Linked DNA regions of Homo sapiens: regions 1 and 3 are each reported to be linked to region 2. Evidence: microRNA targets listed by miRTarBase, many of them from high-throughput screens and not tested one by one. Region 2 holds a microRNA gene; each other region holds the end of a gene's coding sequence.

Region 1 (7,192 bases), not on the chromosome of region 2:
AGGAGCCCTACAGAACCAAAAGCACTGTGCAGAACCAACCCCTGCAGAGCCAGAAGTACTCAGCTGTGAGGTATGCTCTTCGTATAGGCTTTGTGTTCTTGCCCTTGCCCACTTTCCGCTGGCTCTCAGGCAGCCATCCACATGTCTGCTTGGGCCATCCAGAGTAGACATCCCAGCCATTCTTGGTGCATTGTAACCTCCCTCGCCTTTTCTCCAAGGGCAGTCCTTGCCACACCTGCTTACCTAACTTTTCTTCTTGCCTCAGGCCTCGGAGAGGTGGCATGATTGTGGATCCCCTGAGATCTGGCTTCCCAAGAGCACTTATTGACCCTTCCTCAGGCCTCCCGAACCGACTTCCTCCAGGCGCTGTGCCCCCAGGAGCTCGCTTTGACCCCTTTGGACCCATTGGGACCAGCCCACCCGGGTACGTAGTCACTCAGGTATGCTGAGAAGTAGGACCTGATGGCAGCTTGGTTCAGTGTGGCAGCAATGAAGGTTTCTAGCCCCAGGCACAGAGCTGCCGCTGCCTTCACCTGTTGCTGCCAGGAGAGTGGAGCCTCCTCCAGGGCCCTGCCTGATTTCTCCCTGGAGCCTTCTAGGAGCTTCCTATCCCTCAGTGCCTCTCTTTCCCCAGCTCCACTCTGGGGAGGACTCAAAGTAGGAGGAACTAACAATTCTTGAAAGTTAAGTATGTGGCAGAAACTCAGTGGATCCTTTCTTCAGCAGTCTTGGGTAGATGGTGGCGTCTACATTTTATAGATGCAGAAAATGAGGCCCTGAAAGATTAGGTAACTTATACCAAGCGGGGGAGTCAGGATTCAAACCCCGGTTGTCTGGCTCTTGAGTGCATGTGTTTAAATTCCTCACACCGCCACATCATGTTGAAGGGCAGGCTCCCTCAGTGCAGGGTCATGTCTGCCCATGTTCCCCTGGTCTCTCCATCACTCCAACTCATCAGCCCCTCTTTCCATTCCAGACCTAACCCAGACCATCTCCCCCCGCCGGGCTACGATGACATGTACCTGTGAAGGCCTCAAGAATGTAACATCCCAGGCTTCCCTCCATTCTCCTGGAGCTGCCACCGCTGTCCCCATCAGCAACCATGTTCTTGCAGGCTGGGGGCAAGGGATTCTGCTCATGTGTTTGCAGACCGGCTGGGATAGCCTCCCCACCCCTTATCAGAGCCAAGACACCTGCTGCAGCTCTCCACCTAGCTGCAGATAGCTCCCAAAGAGAAATCAGTGTGTCTCTTTCACCATCAGCTCCTCCCCTTTCACCACCAGCTCCTCTCCACTTCCCAAGGGAGACTCCGGCAACCTTCAGCAACATATATCCTCGACCAGATGCAGTGCTATAAGAACAGAACGCATTTTGGATGTTATTATTAAGAACCAAATGTCAATACAGAATTCATGTTGCCGGTTTCCCACTTTTCTTTTTACATTAATGCATAGCTGCTTCCATTTATGAGACTTTAGAGTTTGAGTTTCTGTAGGGCTGAATGACTCTTTTTCCTGCCCAGGGCCCATTCTTGCTTCTCAGGCACCTTCCGTTTATTAATTGCCATTGCTCCTGACATCACTAAGATGGGTCCCCTTCTGGCTGCATGAATGGAAATGAGTGACTGGAAATCCCATAGGCCACAAGAATGACTTTCACAAGGGCAGGAACATTGTGGAAAGACTGCATCATTCTGATGAGGCAAAATCCTCCAGCTATTCCTGTCTGGGCCAGTTTTGTAGGTCCATCTGTGCATGGGCAGCAGTAGTCAAAAAGCCAAGGAAAAAACAGAGCAGACCTGAAGGCTAATCTTATTTTTGCCACTAACTTAGTGAATGACCCTAAGCAAGTTCCTTCTCCTCTTAGGGCCTTGTGCCAAGCCTATGAAATTGGAGGTGGCTTTCCTGCTCTAAAGCATTTTGATGTCTCATTCTGTGTTTGGTAACCCCTATAAACTGGGGCAGAGGAAAAGAATGATGGTTCAAGGCCATACTTCCCTTGAACCTTGTGTGGTTCTTGCCTAACTCTGTGGTTTTTGGACCCCATGGGGCCCAGACAGAGCACAGGAGCATGGGCTGCCTCTGAGTGTGGTGTTGAACTTCGGGAGGAGCAGGGAGCCCTGCACCTTGTGTCCTGGCCCACCTGACCTTTGGTGTTCTCCGGATCCTTTTCAGCCCGAGGCCTGACAGACGCGGGCAGTGATGAGCCCTGTTCTGGAGTGGAAAGAGCACGATAGAGCACCAGGCTAAGAGGCACGAGATCAAGGCGGTAGTCACTTCCGCTCTGCAGCTAGCATTTCAACCATATGTGGATCCTTTCATTTCTCAGCTCCCTGGATTCCTTCCCCTAAATTAGGACCTATTATTTACCTGTAGGTAAGCAAGCTACTGTAGCTCTTCTGAGGTATCTGCCAGGCTGTTTTCTGTAGCCTCAGATTGCCTATCTGCTTAGCCTGAGAACAGGTAGATGAAAACTAAACTGATGCCTAGGCCCAGGGTCAGTCTCAGATGGAAGCTGGGCCTGGGTGGGGAGGCTAGCATGCGTGGCTCCCTGGGTATTTCTGTCAGTCCCCATGGCAAGCAGTGATTTAGTAAAACACCCCAGAGTCAGGGAAGCCAACCACCTTGAAACCTTTAGAACATCTCTGCTTTGGAGAAAGACCCAGAGATCAGGCAGAGGTGCAGATTCAATCATTACTCATAACCTTTGAGAGATGGCAAATGGGAGGAGTGTTAGTCTTTGTTTTGGAATTGGACCATTCTTGCAACCAAAAGGACTTAGAGCAGTTTGCTCATAAAGACATCCTTTATTATAAAAGGAAGTATTTAAAGGATGATAGAGACCATCAGATAGAAGCAGGGAAGGTAGATAACTTTTAGGACCTTGATGTGAGGAAAAGATAAAATTTAAACAATAAATTTGCCACTTAGATTTTCTAGCAGCAAAGTCCGAAAAGATAGTTATATACAAAATTCTGTTTTCTGAAAACAAAATTGTGATTCACCTTCAGAATTGGCCATTTTTTTTGTGAGTTTCCTTGCATCAAGGACACTGAGAAACACAGTCATTGTCTTAGGTGTTCTATGGGAGGAAGTGAATAGAGCCTTTAGGAACTTCCTGGTCAAGCTTATGGTGCTTATTTTGATCTGGGCCACTTCCCTCCTTCCAGTCATGAGTAATCATCAAGGAGCAAGTTGGAGTGTTTCAGGTGTATATTTTGTAGAACCCAAAAGATTGGAGCCTTAACAATAAACATCAGCACTAAGTGACCTGTTCCTCCTTTTTTAAATAGCAGCTTTATTGAGATATAATTTACATACCCATAATTTACATACCTGTTTAAAGTATACAATTCAGTGGATTTAGTATGTTCACAGTGTTGCACATCCACCACCATTTCTAATTCCTGAACATTTTCACCACCTCAAAAAGAAACCACACACCCATTGGCATGACTCCCCATTCCCTTGCTCCCAGCCCCAGGCAACCACTAACATCTGTCTCTAAAGATTTTTTTTTTTTTTCTGGACAGTTCTCATAAGTGGAATCACTCAGTATTATGGCCTTTTGTGTCTGGCTTCTTTCATTTCATGTGATGTTTTCAAGATTCATTCATGCTGTAGCATGTATCCATGGTATGGATATATCACATTTTGCTTATCCTTTTATCAGTTGATGGACAGTTGGGTTGTTTCTACAAAAAGGCTATTATGAGTAATGCAGCCAAGAACATTTGTGTACCAGTTTTTGAGTTTTCAGTTGTTTGAGTTTCAGATGTTTTCAGTTCATTTGGGTATATACCAAGGAGTGGAATTGCTGGTTCACATGGTAGCTCTATATTCTACTTTGTGAGGAATTGTCAGACTGTTTTCCACGGAAGCTGCACCATTTTACATTTCCACTGGTAATTTATGAGGGTTCCAGTTTCCCCACATCTTCACCAACTCTTGTTATTTTTCATGCTTATGGCCATCCTAGTTAGCGTGAAGTAGCATCTCATTGTGGTCTTCTCTTCCATTTTTTAAAAAAGAATTTTGACCTACACCAAGCAAGGCAGAGACCAGAGTCAGTCCCCCTTGGGGAGCAATCTGTGGTTTTGATAATCACCACCTTGGGATGAACATGGCTGGTGAGCTGCAGAGCAGTTGATTTGACTTTTGGGGATGGTTCTAGGCTGGATGTGATACAGGGCAGGTTTTGTCTCTAGAGAAAGTTCTCATGACCTTCAGGTCTAATGAGATTCAGATCATCACTTTGGTTTGGTTTGAAATTTCTTTGTTTATCCAGTGAATTACAAGTAGAATAAAGATCTGGTTCTAAATTGTCTTTTGGTGGTGAAGTGCCATAGACCATTTCGGACCATTTCTATGATGTACCAGCAGCCCCCACATCACACCTCCTCTTCCTTGGCTTGTCTCTTCCCCAATTCTTAGAGTTAGCAGTGTTTCTTACTGCATTCATCTCCTCAGTCATAAGTGTCTGTCAACCTCCGTTGTGAAGTCATGAGTCTCTTGAGACTGAAACTCCAAGAATGTATTGTGCTCACAGTGGCGATGGTGTTCCTGTGCTGGATGGTCAGTGGTTGTTGACATGTAGTTAGAAAATAGGTAGCAAGTTCCACGCAGCCTCACTCTTTGGAACCTAGTTTCTCCTATGGCCTCCCTTTCTACTGTTGTTAATAACATTCTATTAATGATCCATGCCTCTCTTCACAGGAGGAATATTAGAATCTATGGAGCAGTTAGTATTCTTTGTCACCTAAATTTGTCTACTTCTGTACATTTCCAATAAGGCACCACCAGGGCAAGGGAAGATTCCCCACATGTATATCCCCAGCTGTTTCTGTCATAAAACTTGCATGTGTATAAACCACTATTGACTTTTTGCACCAAAGGAGATATTCAAGGACAGACATCCAAGTCCCCAGCCCTTTATTGCCCTTGGGATACCACAAGGCACAGATACAGGCAGCTGCTGTGTGGCTCTGGAGTTCCTAATCCCCAGATTGTAGCAATGATGATGTGATCCTGCTGCTCTCTGGACCGTAACCTTTTTGGTTACAAAAGGTAAATTTCTGTTTACTGCATCTGAACCCCAGGACTAATGCGTCACTGCATTAACCCCAGGACACATGGACCAAGTCACTGCGGCCGTACTTGGCCCTGAATCTGTCCTGGAGGGTGGGTCAAAAGGCAAGGGTGGCAGGTAGGATGGTAGGCAGTGAGGGGTGGCAAGGCCTAGCTGACTGAGGACAGACCCAGCAACAATGACAGGAGGTTTGAACACCTCACGAGTGGTAGTGCCCATGGGAGGTGCGAAGTGGAAGGCCCAGCCCTTGCTTGGAGGAACGTGAGGCTGATGGTGCAGTGCAATAGAGGTCACTGGATGCCCATTTGAACAGCTGCGTTCCAGATGAGCCACCTAAGGTGGATGTTGTGAGAGTCACAGTGGGTTTAGAGGGACAAGGTAGTGAGAGGATGCTGCTGACGCATTAGTCCTGGGATTCAGCTGCAGTAAACAGAAATTTACCTTTTGTAACCAAAAAGGTAATGGTCCAGAGAGCAGCAGGATCACATCATCATTGCTACAATCTGGGGATTAGGAACTCCAGAGCCACACAGCAGCTGCCTATATCTGCACCAAAAAGTAGATGTCCTTCACACTGCCATCTGGACACCACTCAGCTAGCTCATCCAAGTTCAAGGCTCAATTGAATGCGTCTGGTTGTTGGAACCTACATGGCCTCTCAAATGGTACTGGCATGGAATATTGGGGAGATGTCTTTATTCCCTCTTCCCACCTTTCCTGGAAGGTGCACTGGGACAGAGGTCTAGTGAGCCAATCTTCTGTGTTGTCTACGCCATGGACCATGATATAAATGGGTACCACAGCCTTGCATGCCTGAGCCTAACCATCTCCTGAGATGCTTGCTCTAAGTACACATTAGTACATGCTGGGCCCCAATCTAGATCTCAAGGGAACGGCCTTCAGATCCATTTTTGACAAGTTCCTTTTGTGAGTCCTATGATCATGCAAGTTTGAGAACTGAGAAGGGAGGGGAAGACCTACCTCCTTGTTACTCAGACCACCAGCAACAGCAGCATCACCTGGGAACCTGTTACACATGCAGAATCTCAAGCCCCACCCCAGACATTGAATGAGAATCTGCATTTTAACAAGTTCTCCATGAGATTTGTGTAAACTTAAAGTGAGAGAAGCTCACATGGACTATGTCTTTTTCCTTTACGTGAATATCGAGTACAAAGAATTGAGCCAGTCAGTCCTCTTGGTTAATGGCACATTATGATTAATGCATGCATGAACTCTGATTCGAAGTTTTCGTTGATTTTACCCCCAGTATCCACTCCATTCCTTTGCCCCCATGGGTCACTTAGATGTGTTTCATGTTATCTTTAAAAATGCAGCACCTTTATAGCATACATTATATCTTCAAACCATAACCATAATGAGGTGTTATCCCCATTTCCTGTACCAGAAAAGGAAGGATTGGGAAGGTCCAGTAATTTGCTCAGGGTCAAGCAGGAGTCTCAGACTCAGTCAAGCGTGGTTACTCACAGCCCTCCCTTTCTCAGTGTGTGGCCTTCCTCATCCACAAAATGAGCATCACCCCTACCTGCAGGATTCTTGCAAGATCCAACCAAATAATGTGTCTTATTAACAGAGAGTTGGGGCTCGGTGGGTGCTTGCTGCAATTGTTACTAAAGTCATATGGGTAGATAAGGGTGGGACTCAAGGACAAGAGAGGAACCTTGGAATATCCCCCAGTGCAGGAAACAAGCATTTATCAGGTGCACACAGCGTGCTAGGCTTCTCCTCATCGCATGTAGTACCCCTGACAACCCCAAGGTAAACACAGCTAGTGGCATTAGTTGAGATGCTGCACCTACCCCCTGGGGTGGCAGAACCGTGATTGGAACCCAGGTCAGTGCTCTTTTCAGTAGAACTGCTGTACCCAGACCTCACATCCTCTCTAGGTGAGGTGCATGGGTCCCTGGGCAAAACCCATTCCAGAAGCTGGGAAACCACGTCAGGACTTGTGTGAGAAAGGAGTGATGCTTCATAATCCCCAGGATGGTCTTAAGGCTCCTCAGTCAGTCCTATTTGCACAGCGTGCCTCATGCTCCTGAGTACCTCCACCTGCAGCCACAGTGCCCAGAGCACCTGGTTAGGA
Region 2 (7,192 bases):
TGTTTAGGGCCTGGGTGCCGCGTCTCAAGGAAGGGCCCTGAGGAGAGGTGAGCAGCCCCTCAAAATTTAAGGGTGCACTGAGCACACCTGGGCCCGAGGGGCCGAGGCATGTGAGCCGTGCCTAAGGTTGAGACCCACAGGGGCAGGGCCCCCAGGTGCCCCCAGGCTGCCTGTTTATGACTGATAGTTCCCGACTCCAGGCCTGGGCCCTGGATATGCTCCCAGAGGGGACGGGACACCCTGCAAGTCCCAAGGCAGGAGGACGGGGTGTTTGCACCTCAGTCCTGCTGCTGTCCCCAACACCACCTACCGTCTTTCCACTTCGTGGGCCTGGAACAGCTCAGGAAGGCTTGGGACTACCCCAGCCTTCTTGGGACCTTGAGGCAGTCAGCCTCAGTTTCCCCCATTGCTCATAGGCCCACACCCAGCTCCACCAAAACCAAACATTTTCCCAGAAAGCAGAGAGACCCCCTACCCCCGCCATGGCAATGGTCGGTGGGCACCCAGGCCCTCTGGGGCCCTGGCTCAAGCCGATCATTCCCATACCCTTCCAGCTCTACAGGCTGCGGCCTGGTCCGCCCTGCACTGTCTCCTGGTCCGGGCCTCTGGCGGGCACAGGTTTCAGCTCCTGCGATAACTGGGAAAGTTGAACTGGCCCCATTACTGCGCCAAGATGGTGAGTGAGATACAGCCTTGATAATGGAGGAGATACCAGCTTCTCGGTGGCCAATAGCCCAGCCTCTCCACCCATTAACATTCCCCACCAGCGATCCGCTGCCTATCTCGTCCATTTCCACTCCTCCCGAAGATAAGAATGGAAATTCTGACTTCATAGCTCACTGATTAAAGTGTCTGGATTTCTTGATAATACATAGATAAATTATGTTTTTGAAAAAGAAGGTAGGGAGGAGGGTGAGGAGGATGGGGGCCTGGGGTGGGTGGGAGCCCTTGGCCGTTTCTCCCAGCCTCTTTTGGCCCCTGGGCCAGACCATGAACCACAGAGCATCCGGCCTACACCGCAGCGGCCTCTGCACAGACCCCGTGTCCGGAGGTGCAGAGTTAGCTCACAGCAGGGCCCGGGCTGGGGAGACACAGGCAGGGCGCAGCGTCTGCTCAGAAGACAAACAGCAGAAACATGTCATAATGCTGGAAACAGGCTGGTGCTGGGAGCTAGTAACCGTGGCCCACAGGCCTGCGGGGAAGCCCTCTGTCGGGGAAGTGCCCCTCCCAGCAGCCTGGTGGTGGGCAAAGGGTGGAGGAAAAGCCAGAAGTCTGGGCCTGGCTGGCTGCGCCTGTCTTGGGCCATGTCTCTGTGCCTCAGTTTCCCCACCTGTCAAATGAGTGGGAGCACGGGGCCCTCCTCACAGCCTTGACAGCAATGCAATGCCCCAGGGTGGGCATTTCGCCTGTGTGGATCCCTGGTGTCCCCCTGGTGCCTAGAACAGTGCCCGGTTATACAGTAGGTACTTAATAAATGTGGAGGGCCCAGGCAGAGTCCCATTGGCCAGCTGGGGAGGGGGAGGGGCTTGCCTGCATTGAGAAACCCTGTGTGCTCCCCGGCTTGGCTCCCACCCTGTCCCCAGCCATCCCTGGCCCTGCTGCTGCACCTGACAGCTGCGCCCAGATGGGACTCAGGTGCCATCGCGGCGTCTGTCTGGATAAAGCCGCCTCCTTCAGCTGATCCGAGATCCGGCGCTGATGGAGCGATTAGCGGCGATTAGAGCCCGGCGTGCGGCTAATCCTCCTGCTGAGGGACAGGTGAAGCAGCCATAGGGGTGGAGGAGGGACAGGTGAAGCAGCCATGGGGTGGAGGGTGCCAAGGGGCCCGCCGTGCACGGGGGAAACCAAGGCCACGCAGCTACGATGTCTCCTTGAGGCAGTGGCCCGGCCGCTCCCTCGCTGGCAGAAAGGCTTCCTGTGGAGCCGCCTGGGCTCCCAGTGGGTGCAGGCCAGCTTGCCATTTCCCCCTTCCTGGATTTTATATTTTGAGTGACTCTTGAGAAATGAGATCCTCTGGGAACCCAAAGGCAGGATCCCTGGGGCGGTGTGGATGGTGACATTTCTGGGTGGTTCTGGGACCCCCAGTTGTAGTGATCCTGATGGCGGCCGTGGTTAGACAACAGCTCCGTTACCCAGCCCCGGCAGTTCTGGCATGGAGTACTCTGCAGCCCTGGGAGGGGCGCCTATGACCTCATTCTCCTCAGAGAACTGAAGGCTCAGCGAGGTTGAGTAACTCACCCAAGATCACACAGCATGAAGAGAACAGAAGGGACCCTGGCTTCTGGCTTAGAGTCTAGCCGAGGTCAGAGTCTCCATCCTGGCTGGAGGTTCTGGGGTGTTTGCAGTGGGGGGCAGCCCACGAGCCTCCCAGGGGGCTCACCCGTACCTTTCAGGGAGAAAGGCCAAGCACAGAAAGGGCAGGGGACGGCTGAGGGCCGCACAGCCCATCCTGGCAGTGGGAGGGGATGGGCGGAGGCTGGCCTGCCTCTATTCTTGTTTCTTGGGTTCATTTCATCTGTCCCCAGAAAATAAGCTCCTTTGGTGAGAAAGTTGGTTTCTTTCTAACTTTTGGGTTTGGTTTTGTTTCAATATTCTAAAAGGAAGTCAGCTATTTCCAGTGCAGTGGGGTGTGTATGTGGGGGAGGGGGGTAAATGTCAGCTCCAGTGACCAGCGTTTAAATCCTGCCCCCTGGCCGGCAGCCTCTCAGTTTCCTCACTTGTATCATGGGCATGATCACAGTTCCAGCCTCCTTGGCCTTTGAGGAATTAGGGCAGAAGTGGGTAAAGCATCTGGGGCCCTTGTGCGGCAGGGCTCAGTGAACCCCAAAACGGCGGTGGTATTAATGGGGGGACACGAGCCGGGGCGAGGGTCCCTGGGGTGGGGCCACCTCTCCAAAGCCCTCTCTGCCCGCAGCCCACCCTCCCTGAATCCTACTGGCATTCTTCCTGCACGGTTTTCCGCCAACGGCTACAGTGTGCCGATGACCTCAGTGATGTCACCTAGGGCCTCGTCCCATCACACAGCGGCCAGAGTGGCTCCAGAACATTTGTCCCTGTGATCCAAGAGTCTACCCCTTGTCAGTCCCCCATAGTTGCCACAGTCACCCAGACCAGGAGCCGCAGCAAACAAGCAGGGGGTACAGCATCTGTCCCCATGGCCCTGGTTCTCACACACATCCCAGAGTCTCAGGTCTCAGTTTCCTCATCTGTCAAATAGGGCCGACACCGCTAAGCCTGCCCTGCAGGCCATGGCCAACCCCCCTGAGGTCTCCCCACCCCTCCCAGCGGTGCCCACCCAGGGCTTCTCGAGGAAGGAGCTCAGCACCCGCCCCAGTGACACTTCACTTCTCTGGGCTTTGCTGCCTTTTCCTATAAAATGGGGTGCCAGTCGCCCTCTCAGAGTCCTTTCAAGGAGCTGATGGTGTAGACCGCGAGACCTGCCTTGCAGGGCACATGCGCAGCTGCTCCTGTCATGCTGGGACCTCCGGACCCCGGGCCTCGCAGCTGCCTTGGATCCCCTCCCTCCTCCAGTCACGGGCTCTGGGCTGGCTGCTGGGCGTGTTGGGCACAGCGGGCCCTAAGCTGACCCGTGCCCTTTGTGGCTGGGACCTGAGATGGGGAGGCCCCCACCCCCTAGTTCCATGGCTTTGGGAGGTGGGGGTGGGGTGTTTTCTACTCTACCACCCTACAACGAAAAAGAAGAAAAGAGAACTTGATAAAAAAGGGCGATGCGTGCTGTGCGGTGGAGGAGGTGCTATCGCCGTTATCTATCTGCTTGCTCGAGCTGAGCGGCCCCCCTTCCCCTTATCTCACCCCACCCTAATGCCAGGAACAAAAGTGAGAACACACTCTCAACCCGCACACCCGCGAGCCCCCCACCGCCCCTCACACACCCGCGAGCCCACCGCCCCTCACGCCCCCGCGAGCCCACCGCCCCGACCCACCCGCGAGCCCACCGGCCGCTGACGCACCTGCGAGCCCACCGCCCCTCACGCACCCGCGAGCCCACTGCCCCTGACCCACCCGCGAGCCCACAGGCCCTGACGCACCCGCGAGCCCACCGCCCCTCAAGCACCCGCGAGCCCACCGCCCCTCAAGCACCCGCGAGCCCACCGTCCCGACGCACCCGCGAGCCCACTGCCTGCGGCGCACAGAGCCACCAGATCTAGAGGGAGAGCTGAGCACTCGGGGTGCTCTGAAAGTCATCATCATCATCATTTTGCAAAGAAAGCCCCCAAATAGCCCTCCCTGAAACAAGGCAGCCAAAAATAAGAAGTCGCTCTCAACAGGCCCCCACAGGAGAAAAGAGGCCGGCCTTGGAGAGGGGTTGGGACTTGGGGCCAGGTCCCAGCTGTGCCGGCCTCTTGGCTGTACGACCTTGGACCAGTATCTTTCCCACTCAGAGTCATCCCTGAATGGATGTCAGGGAGCCTTCGAGGAAAGGGGAGAGCCTGCACTGTAACTGAAGCCCCCCACCAGCCCCATGCAGCTTTCTGACCCTAGACTTGGGGCTGGGACCAGTCACCCAGAATCTGATACCCCCAGGGCCCCGCCCCCCAGAGCCCCACCCCCATGGCCAGGGCACCACTGTCCTAACCAGCCTGTTGGCAGCCAATGGAAATGGGGTATGCAAATGAGCAGGGGTGAGGCCCAGGGATTGGCTGAGCTGCTGTGTGGGGGCAGGGCCTCCTCCAGGGGCTGCCCTTGACCTGGGGGAGTAGTTCCCATCCTGGACCCTGCCCCAGGACGGGAGACCTCTGCCACCACCACCACCGGCTCTGGAAGGGCCCGCCTTTTAGGGGCCTCGCTGTCTGGGCACAGGCGGATGGACAGGCTGGCCTCTGGATGACCTGCCAACCGTCAGAGCCCAGACCCACGTGGCCTCAGTTGGGGACCAGGACCCAGGAGTTCCCGAGAGGAGTGCAGCCAGCAGCCACTCCCAGATGGGAACAGCGAGTTTCACAACCCGGCAGGGACGGCCCTGGGGCCAGCCAGCCTCCCACCCCCATGTCTGGGCCCACTCCAGACCCTCCTGCAGGCTGCCCCCCACCGCTCCACCCTCTCCCCGCGCTGACTTCCATCCGGAACCTCATTCTGCCAAGCTTCTGAAGTGCCGGCCGGGCCAGGGACGTGGCACCATCTTAATGAATGACAGTCCCAACCCCTTTGCCCACCCTCAGCCTCCCCATCTGTAAAACCGGAAGGCGGTCTAGTAGGTCTGCCTCCCAGGATGGTTTCTGGGCTCTTCAGCAAGCCCCTTGCCGGCCTGGGCCTCAGTTTCCCCTTCCACACCATGAGGCTGAGGTGGCAGGTTCTCTGGGGGTCCTCCTGTCTGTGGCTGTGGCATAGCCTGGAAACCTGGGGTCTTCCAGATTTCCCATTGTCAGAAATTCATGTGCCAGGAGACCATGTCTACAGGGGGCTTAGGACACCTTAGGGGGCATGCACCTGTGTTCTGCATCCACCCACACTGCACAGTGGGTCTTGCTGGCAAGACCAGGATGAGGCAGGCTCCGCCGGCCTGAGACCTGGCTGGAGGCCCTGTCAGCTCCCACGGCACCTGAAAATCAGCCACAGGTGTGGGTGTTTGTCAAAAATGTGTAAGTGGAAAATAGTGGCGGGGCGAGGAGAGAAAGAGTCTGGGCTGAGATCTAAGGAGAGGAAGTAGGGAGGGGCCGTCCGACCAGAACCAGACATCACCTTGGCCAGGGCCCCACCCCCTAACGTGGGGTGCAGTGCCTCTCACGTGGTGAGGGTCAGAGGTGCGTGCCCAGCCCAGAGGATCTCCCCACGCAGCCCTCCCAGTCTGCAGAGGGGTCTCCACACATGCAGGCAGCTCTGTCCTCTCCCAGGACAGCTTGGGGCATACAGTAGGTGCTCCATAAATACTCCCCAGCTGATTTCTGGATCTGCTCCCTGTGCCTGGCTGTGTCCCCAGAGGCAAAGCAAGCAGAAGGAAAAAGGAAACGGAGAAAAAGCCAGGGCCTCCAGAGCCAGCATTGTCCTGGGCAAAGGCCCCTCCCGTGTAGGAGCATCGCCTGTGGAGAGCCACGGTCCTTGTCCCTGTGCTGGGGCTGTGACTCACTCCTGCGGGGTCCTTGCTGTCAGGGCCACCCCACCTGTCCTGGGGACAGGGCTGCTGGACGGGTTGGGGCGGGCAGCCTCTGGATGCCCACGGGTGTCCCCTGTACTCTCCAAACCTGTACTGAGTGCCTGCTGTGTGCTGGGCATGGTCCAGGGACCCCAGGTGACCTCATGGAACCCCAGCCTAACGAGGGAGAGTGAACACAGGGGTCTGACGTGCTCTGTGGCAGAACCACTGGGGAGGCTGTTGTTGGGGGACTGGTGGTGTGGAGGGCCGGGTGGTGACACTCAGTGACAGGTGAGGATGTGGCACGGTGTGGAGGGCCGGGTGGTGACGCTGAGTGACAGGTGAGGATGTGGCACGGTGTGGAGGGCCGGGTGGTGACGCTGAGTGACAGGTGAGGATGTGGCACGGTGTGGAGGGCCGGGTGGTGACGCTGAGTGACAGGTGAGGATGTGGCACGGTGTGGAGGGCCGGGTGGTGACGCTGAGTGACAGGTGAGGATGTGGCACGGTGTGGAGGGCCGGGTGGTGACGCTGAGTGACACGTGAGGATGTGGCACGGTGTGGAGGGCCGGGTGGTGACGCTGAGTGACAGGTGAGGATGTGGCACGGTGTGGAGGGCCGGGTGGTGACGCTGAGTGACAGGTGAGGATGTGGCATAGGGAAACACATCCTCGCCGAGCGCACAGTGGGAGCTCCGAGCAGGGGATGAGGTCGTCCAGGAAGGGGCGGGAGACGCAGCGTGACGCACTGACCCAGGGCCCAGCTCAGATGCCAGTACCTCACCCGGTGGGGTCCAGCCTCCGCGACAGGCATTCCCTTCCCCGTGTGCCCTTGCCAACTACATACTGGGCTGCCCAGAGGCTGCCTTCTGAAGGAGCGAGGGGGCCGGGAGGAGGAAAGCCCAGCTCCCCTGCAGCCATGATAGATAGACCAGACTTTTCCTCTCCACTTACTCCGCCCTGACCGCGATGGGCACTGAGAATTCAGACAAGAGCCGGACTCCCTGAGCTCCCAACCAGCTGACCCTCCAGGGCTGCAGCCATGTGTGACCTCCACCCTCGCGAAGGCCAGCGGCCGCAGGGTCTGGCTTGGGCTATAGCAT
Region 3 (7,192 bases), not on the chromosome of region 2:
CACACACACACACACACATAGTGTGTGTCTCTGTGACTGCCATGTTCTTAAGAAAGCTTGGATGGCCAGGTGCACACACACACACACACACACAATGTGTGTGTGTCTGTGTGACTTCCATGTTCTTAAGAAAGCTTGGATGGCCGGGTGCAGTGGCTCACGCCTGTAATCCCAGCACTTTGGGAGGCCAAGGTGGGCAGATCACCTGAGCTCAGGAGTTTGAGACCAGCCTGGCCAACATGGTGAAACCCCATCTCTACTAAAAAATACAAAAATTAGCTGGGCGTGGTAGCATGAGCCTGTAATCCCAGCTACCCAGGAGGCTGAGGCAGGAGAATCACTGGAACCTGGGAGGCAGAGGCTGCAGTGAGCCAAGATCGCGCCACTGTACTCCAGCCTGGGCAACAGACCAAGACTCCGTCTCAAAAAAAAAGAAAGCTTGGGGGCCGGGCGCAGTGGCTCACACTGTAATCCCAGCCAAGGTGAGTGGATCACTTGAGGTCAGGAGTTCTGAGACGAGCCTGGCCTACATGGTAAAACCCCATCTCTACTAAAAATACAAAAATTAGCCGGGCATGGTGGTGCATGCCTGTAATCCAAGCTACTTGGGAGGATGAGGCAGGACAATCACTTGAACCTGGGAGGTGGAGATTGCAGTGACCAGAGAGCCGAGATTGTGCCACTGCACACTCCAGCCTGGGTGGCAGAGTGAGACTATGTCTCAAAAAAAAAAAAAAAAAGCAAGCTTGGGGCTGTGGCAGTGGTCAGAGACCCTCTGGTAGGTGGCTGGTTGCACCCAGAGACACTGCAGTCCAGAGATACTGCAGTCCAGAGGTGTGTGTGAGGGTAGTTTGCTTCCTCTGCACCCCTCTGGCTGCCTCCCTGGCTCTCTTCCTTGCCCCTTCCGTGCAATAGTTCCCTGTTGAATAGCAACTACCTAGCCCAGGTGTTCAGGACCCAATTTCAGAATCCATCCCACTATTCTCAGGAGCACTTCTGTTCTTGCCTGACCATTCTTGACTGTTTTGGGCTCTGGAAGTGTGATGCCCCCATGGTTGGCCCCACTTCTCTGCTGTTTTCCTCTCATGTTTTGCTGCCAGCTGCCTGGGAGGGGTGGCTGTATCCCTGTCCCACATCAGAAACTGATCCTCAGGACTTGAAGGCCCAGAAGTGGAGAGAGAATGAGACCTGGAGACAAAGGGCATAATTGTTGGGGAAATGGATGACAGCTGAAGCTATTCATATGGAGCCATATACTCTATTGTTGAAATAGAATAAGGAAATAAAATGATACACTCACATACCTGCGCGAGCTCTCCAAAAACACTGTACTACCTTGTCTACCAGGAGCTGGTTTCTCAGCCAGTTGGATAAGGGATTGTTTCAGCAAGGAGACTGATGGCCTCCTCAGGGAAGGAGGGACGGGACAGGATTTGTTCTTGTAACAGCATTCAAGGAGTCAGCTGGGTGCCTCAGCTGTACTCAGAGAACACCAGTCAGGCCATCCTGGGGCTGGCAGGGCAGAGAAAGGCCTAGGGGTTGGGGCTGCTGCGATTCAACAGCTCCCAGAGGCACTTGACCTGCTCCCTCGCCTCACGTGGAGGTGGATAGAGGTAAACTTTCCAGGCAAGGAGGGTCAAATTCTCAGCTTTCCTATCAGAACGAAACTGTCCCAGCCTCAGCCCTTGTCTGGCTAAAGTAGGTCACCTCTGTCCCTTCCCGTACAGCCGTCATCAGAACTGGTGTTTATGCACCCTCGTGGGTAGATCCTGGGAATGCATGTCCAGCTTGGTCCCCGGCATGAGGTCTGCGCTCGACAGTGCCTGCCCTGCGCCTGTTCTGGGGAGCTCAGCCCAGACCGGGCCTCCAGCTCCCTTCCCGCCCGGCAGGGGCCCCGGGCCCGGAGATGGCCACGCCACGCTGCCTTCTCGGGTCTGACTGTCCTGATCCTGCGCAAAAGTGGGGCTGCACTCGGCCTAACGAACGGACGAGGAAGCCCCCGCCGCACTTGGCTTATTAGTTGGTGGACCGGAGGGGCAAGGAGGGGATGCCCGAATCCTGCACTGAGTCTCTGAGGTCCTTAAAGAAGAACAAAAGTGCTAGTCACCGCCCACTAAACTCACGTTGCGATCTAAAGTTTAAAAACTCGGCCACAGACGACGACACAGTTTCAGGGAGGGCGCGCAGAAGGTCGCCCGGCCGACAGGAGCTGGGACCCCAGTTTGCTGATTCACGCCTTAAATTGGGCACAGACCCCACCCACAGATTTAACTTCCTCCAACACAAGCTAAATCCAGGGCCACGTACCCAGGGCCCGCAGGAGGGACAGGACGAGGATGGTGCCCACAGCGCGCTGGAGGCACGCCAGAGCCTGGAGGGGCAGGCAGGGGCGGTGGAGCGGGGCCGGAAGTGAGGCTAGCGGAGCCCCGCAGTGGCGGCTCGCGCTCATTGGCCGGGAGCAGCGCGGTGGGCGGGACGGAGCTCGGCGGTCTGCGCTCGGTTGCTAGCCGTTTGCTCCCGCTTTCAGTTGCTTTGCTGTTAGCCTGTTGGACCTTCGAGCCTAGCTGCTCGCACAGGACTCGGCCACCTGCCCTTCCTGCACCGACTGGCCAGGTAGGTGGCTGTAGGGGCCGCGGGCTGCAGGTTCCCGGGAAGGATAATGAGAGAACCGAGGGCCTCGAACCGGCTGCAGGTGGTGGGGAGGGAGTTTCGTGGACCTGGACGCCTCTGTTCCTTGAGAAGGCTCGCTCCCTCCTCCGGGAGCTCCGAAGGCTCGGGGTCAACCACCTGGGCCCCCGACCCCGGTAGCTGGCTCAAGGCCCGCCACTACCTGGTACCTCTGCAGGAGTTCAGAGCCTCATGCTGAGCCAGGAGGAGCTCCGGGTGACGCATACGGCAGGATCGGGATTGAGAGGCTGAAAAAGTGAGTTTAACAGTAGAGAAAGCAGGACCTGTCCCGCAGGCTGCTGTTCTGGCTTTTCTTTCCCACTACCTGCTTCAGTCATTGCCAGCTGTCTGGTATTCTCCTTGGCCCCTAAAGTTTTGCCCTAGCCTGGTTCTGGTTCCCTTGAGTTTGGAGCAGGAGGTGGAATGTGGAGGGTCCTGGGTGAACTTGGACTATTCCTTCTCTAGGTTTCACTTATCTCGTCTGCTTGGGGGTAGGGGGTTCTCCGGATGATCTCTGCAGCCCCTCACTGTCTGTAACTGAGCATCTCTCCCCTGGGGCAGGTGTCCTGGTAGTTCAGTAGCCAGCTCTGATCTCAGGTAGCCTGTGCTCATTTACAAAGAGTCAGAAGACAGAGCACTGGACTTAGAGCCAAACAGACACTTGGTTCAGCCTGGGAATAGCTGTGTGACTTTGGGCAGTCACCTCATTTTTCTGTGCCTTGATTTCACATTGGTAACATTGGGGAGTTGTAATCTGAGTGTGAGACCTCTCCTGACCACTTTATGTAATCTTGTACCTGACCGACACCCTCTCATCCCTCTGTGCTTATTTTACAAGTTTATTGATCAACTCTTATCCCTACTAGAGACAAGTACCATGAGTGCAGAGATTTTTGCTTATTTATTGCTGTATTCCCGCCTCTAGAACAGTGCCTAGAGTGTGGTAGGTACTGTCAACCTAAATAGCAGAGTGAGAGACTCTAAAAAAATGATGTTTACTTGGGAATAGACATTGTAGTGACAATATGTGTGCCATAGTAACCTGTGTACGTATTTGGGGAGGTAAAGGAAGACAAAGGTTTTGAAAAGGAAAAATGAGGATTACATGATTATTTTGAGATAGTTATCCTTGGCTACAAGGATGAATAGCAAGAGTGGTGCTAGTCTGAGGTTGGACAGGCAGTTGCAGGGCAGATGTCCTCACAGAAAGATTTTTCTGTGTAAGTTTGCAGTGGCCTTTGTGCAGGGTTGTGGTTTTTGCATTTTTTGTGATCTTGTTATCAGTCATTTGTGCATAAGAACCCTCTTTTCACAACCTTCCTCGGTTTTATTTGTCAGAGTTGTTGTTCTTGTTTTTTCCCATTGGAGAATCATGCTTTAAATTTGTCAGAGTTTTTAACACAAACGACTCTGTTTTGATTCTAACAACTTTCATATTTCCCCCTTTTGGTCAAGATCTTTCTCCAAAAACTTTACTGATCAGTCATCCTGTAGTTAGGTCCCTCAGTGCTGGGACGGACCTATCTTGGGTTGTTGGTCTCTTGCCATGTTGGAGACTAGGAGTCTCCAGTTGGAGACTGGTGACTAGGAGTCAGTGTCAAAACCCTTGTAGTGGTTGGGAGCAGGGGCTCACGTCTGTAATCCCAGTACTTTGGGAGGTCAAGGAGGGAGTATCACTTGAGTCCAGAAGTTCAAGACCAGCCTGGGCAACCGCCAAGGCGGGCGGATCACCTGAGGTTGAGAGTTCGAGACCAGCCTGACCAACATGAAGAAACCCGTCTCTACTAAAATACAAAAATATATATAAATAACATCCGGGCGCGGTGGCTCACACCTGTAATCCCAGCGCTTTGGGAGGCCGAGGCAGGCGGATCATGAGGTGAGGAGATCGAGACCATCCTGGCTAACACGGTGAAACCCCATCTCAACTAAAAATACAAAAAATTAGCCGGGCGTGGTGGCAGGTGCCTGTAGTCCCAGCTACTTGGGAGGCTGAGGCAGGAGAATGGCGTGAACCCAGGAGGCAGAGCTTGCAGTGAACCGAGATCGCACCACTGCACTCCAGCCTGGGCGACAGAGCAAGACTCTGTCTCAAAAAAATAAAAAATAAAAAAATAAAAAATAAATAAAATAAAATACAAAAATTAGCCGGGCGTGGTGGCACATGCCTGTAATCCCAGCTACTAGGGAGGCTGAGGCAGGAGAATCGCTTGAACCTGGGAAGTGGAGGTTGCGGTGAGCCGAGATCGCACCATTGCACTCCAGCCTGGGCAACAAGAGCGAAACTCCGTCTCAAAAAAAAAAAGTTATCTGGGCATTGGTTGGGGAGTGTGCGGGAGTCAGTTGGGTAGAGGATCACTTAAGCCCAGGAGTTTCAGGTTATAGGGAGCTATGATTGTACCGCTGCACTCCAGCGTGGGTGACAGAGCGAGACCCTGCCTCAAAAAACCCCAAATACCTTTTAGCCACATTTGAGCAGCAAGGGAGGTTTGGAAGGAGTGGCTCTCAAGGTATGTCTACCTGGAGTTCATTGTTAAGTTCAATTTTGGCTGTTCCATAGGCATTTGCTGTCATTGCAAACTTCTGGGCCAGCATTATTCTGTCAGGAGTGATACTTCAACAAAAATTTAAAAAGTAATAGGTATAAAGTTTAAAAAGAAAATAGGGCTGGGCACGATAGCTCACCCCTGTAATCCTGGCACTTTGGGAGGCCAAGATGGCCAGATTGCTTGAACCCAGGAGTTCGAGACCAGCCTGGCCAAGATCATGAAACCTCGTCTCTACAAAAAATACAAAAATTAGCCAGGCATGGTGATGCACACCTGTAATCCCAGCTACTCGGGAGGCTGAGGCAGGAGAATCACTTGAACCCGGGAGGCAGAGGTTACAGTGAGCCAAGATGGTGCCACTGCACTCCAGCTCGGGCTACAGAGTGAGACTCTGTCTCCAAAAATAATGTAAAATAAATAAATAGGAAAATAGGAAGTAATAGCAATGTGATAATCTCAGTTTGCATAATAGTTCTGAGAGGCCCACCGTGGTGGCTCACGCCTGTAATCCCAGCACTTTGGGAGGCTGAGACGGGCGGATCACGAGGGCAGGAGATGGAGACCATCCTGGCTAACATGGTGAAACCCCGTCTCTACAAAAAATACAAAAAAAATTACCCGGGCGTGGTGGCGGGCACCTGTAGTCCTAGTTACTCGGGAGGCTGAGGCAGGAAAATGGCGTGAACCTGGAAGGTGGAGCTTTCATTGAGCCGAGATTGCACCACTGCACTCCAGCCTGGACGACAGAGCCAGACTCCTACTCAAAAAAAAAGAAACGAGTAAGAGTCTCAAAATGATATGGAATCTTGTTCCAGTGTCTTCGGAAAAGCTATCTACAGTATGAAACCATCAACTTCTTATCCTGGTTTGCAGTTTGAATGTCTCTGGTTATGGCATTGGGATGTTTGGTGAACTTCCTGTGTGACCCATACATTAGGCACAAGGCTTGTACCTTAAAGTTCATCTAGTTTCAACTTACAGGGCTTCAGGAACAGAGCAGTGCCAATTTTTAATAATTTCATGAAAGAAAGTTAGATTGGAGGAATCTAGAATTCAGGAGCTAGTCCAGTATACAAGTAGATAATGAGAACTCAAAAACAATGCACAGGGCTGCAGTCTAATAACAGATGTACTATAGCTTTTTTTAGAAACAAAATTTTCTCTTTACAGTGATCACATAGGAATAACAGATTTAAAAACCATTTAAGGCTAGGAAGCAAAACCAAGGCAGACTTTAGATTTTACTTAACAGTCTTAAGGTTCCTGGGCCTGCCAGGAAGTGACAGATTTTACTCATTCACTGTAAGGCTGGGAATCTTTGAAGGCAGGCTTTCTATGTACATTCTCAAGTATGATATTCTAGTTAAAGCCCTGGTAATATAAGCAATATTTGTTGTATTCTGTTATAAGAGAGAACAGGCTGGGCACAGTGGCTCACGCCTGTAATCTCAGTACATTGGGAGCCCAAAGTGGGCAGATCGCTTAAGGCCAGGAGTTCGAGACCAGCCTGGCCAACATGGTGAAACGCTGTCTCTACTAAAAATACAAAAATTAGTCAGACATGGTAGTGCTCGCCTGTGATCCCAGTTACTGGGGAGGCTGAGGCGCAAGAATCACTTGAACCTGGGAGGTGGAGGTTGCAAGATCTGAGATCGTGCCACTGCACTCCAGCCTGAGCAACAGAGTGAGACTCTGTCTCAAAATAAAAAAAAAAGAGAGAGAGCAAAGTCTTACTGGACTTTTGCAAATAACCACATTGCCGTAAGAATACTCATGAATAGACCAGCATGGTGGCTCACGCCTGTAATCCTTTCACTGTGGGAGGCCATGGCAGCCTGATCACTTGAACCCAGGAGTTCAAGATCAACCTGGGAAACATGCCCAAACCCCATCTCTACTAAAAAATACAAAAATTAGCTGGGTGTGGTGGTGCATGCCTGTACTCCCAGGCCCTTGGGAGACTGAGGAAGGAGAAT

The links. The annotated mature microRNA hsa-miR-5189-5p reads UCUGGGCACAGGCGGAUGGACAGG and lies in region 2 at 4,811-4,834, shown strand. An mRNA with a match to its seed (bases 2 to 7 or 8) in the 3' UTR can be bound and repressed. Matches are read on the target gene's strand: a 7mer-m8 pairs with bases 2 to 8, a 7mer-A1 pairs with bases 2 to 7 and ends in A, and an 8mer does both.
Region 1: miRTarBase lists PSMF1 as a target of hsa-miR-5189-5p. Seed matches in the 3' UTR shown: 7mer-m8 at 1,516-1,522, 7mer-A1 at 2,050-2,056 and 8mer at 7,171-7,178.
Region 3: the mRNA of MEI1 is a reported target of hsa-miR-5189-5p. Seed matches in the 3' UTR shown: 7mer-A1 at 1,163-1,169.

What each region holds. Positions count from the first base shown.
Region 1 is chr20:1,164,053-1,171,244 of GRCh38, forward strand. It overlaps PSMF1 (proteasome inhibitor subunit 1), which reads left to right. Exons shown (of 7, transcript NM_006814.5): 6 at 266-424; 7 at 977-7,192. The coding sequence ends at 1,028. Among named protein-coding and RNA genes, the nearest start is that of TMEM74B, 17 kb to the right of the region's middle.
Region 2 is chr16:88,464,133-88,471,324 of GRCh38, forward strand. MIR5189 (microRNA 5189) reads left to right here and starts at 4,786; the gene lies at 4,786-4,899. The region is part of intron 1 of ZFPM1 (zinc finger protein, FOG family member 1); the gene reads left to right.
Region 3 is chr22:41,798,154-41,805,345 of GRCh38, forward strand. MEI1 (meiotic double-stranded break formation protein 1) reads left to right here. Exons shown (of 31, transcript NM_152513.4): 31 at 1,101-1,301. The coding sequence ends at 1,146. CCDC134 (coiled-coil domain containing 134) reads left to right here and starts at 2,526. Exons shown (of 7, transcript NM_024821.5): 1 at 2,526-2,613. RefSeq lists enhancers at 1,347-2,333, 2,109-2,188, 2,259-2,338 and silencers at 1,809-1,898, 2,489-2,548.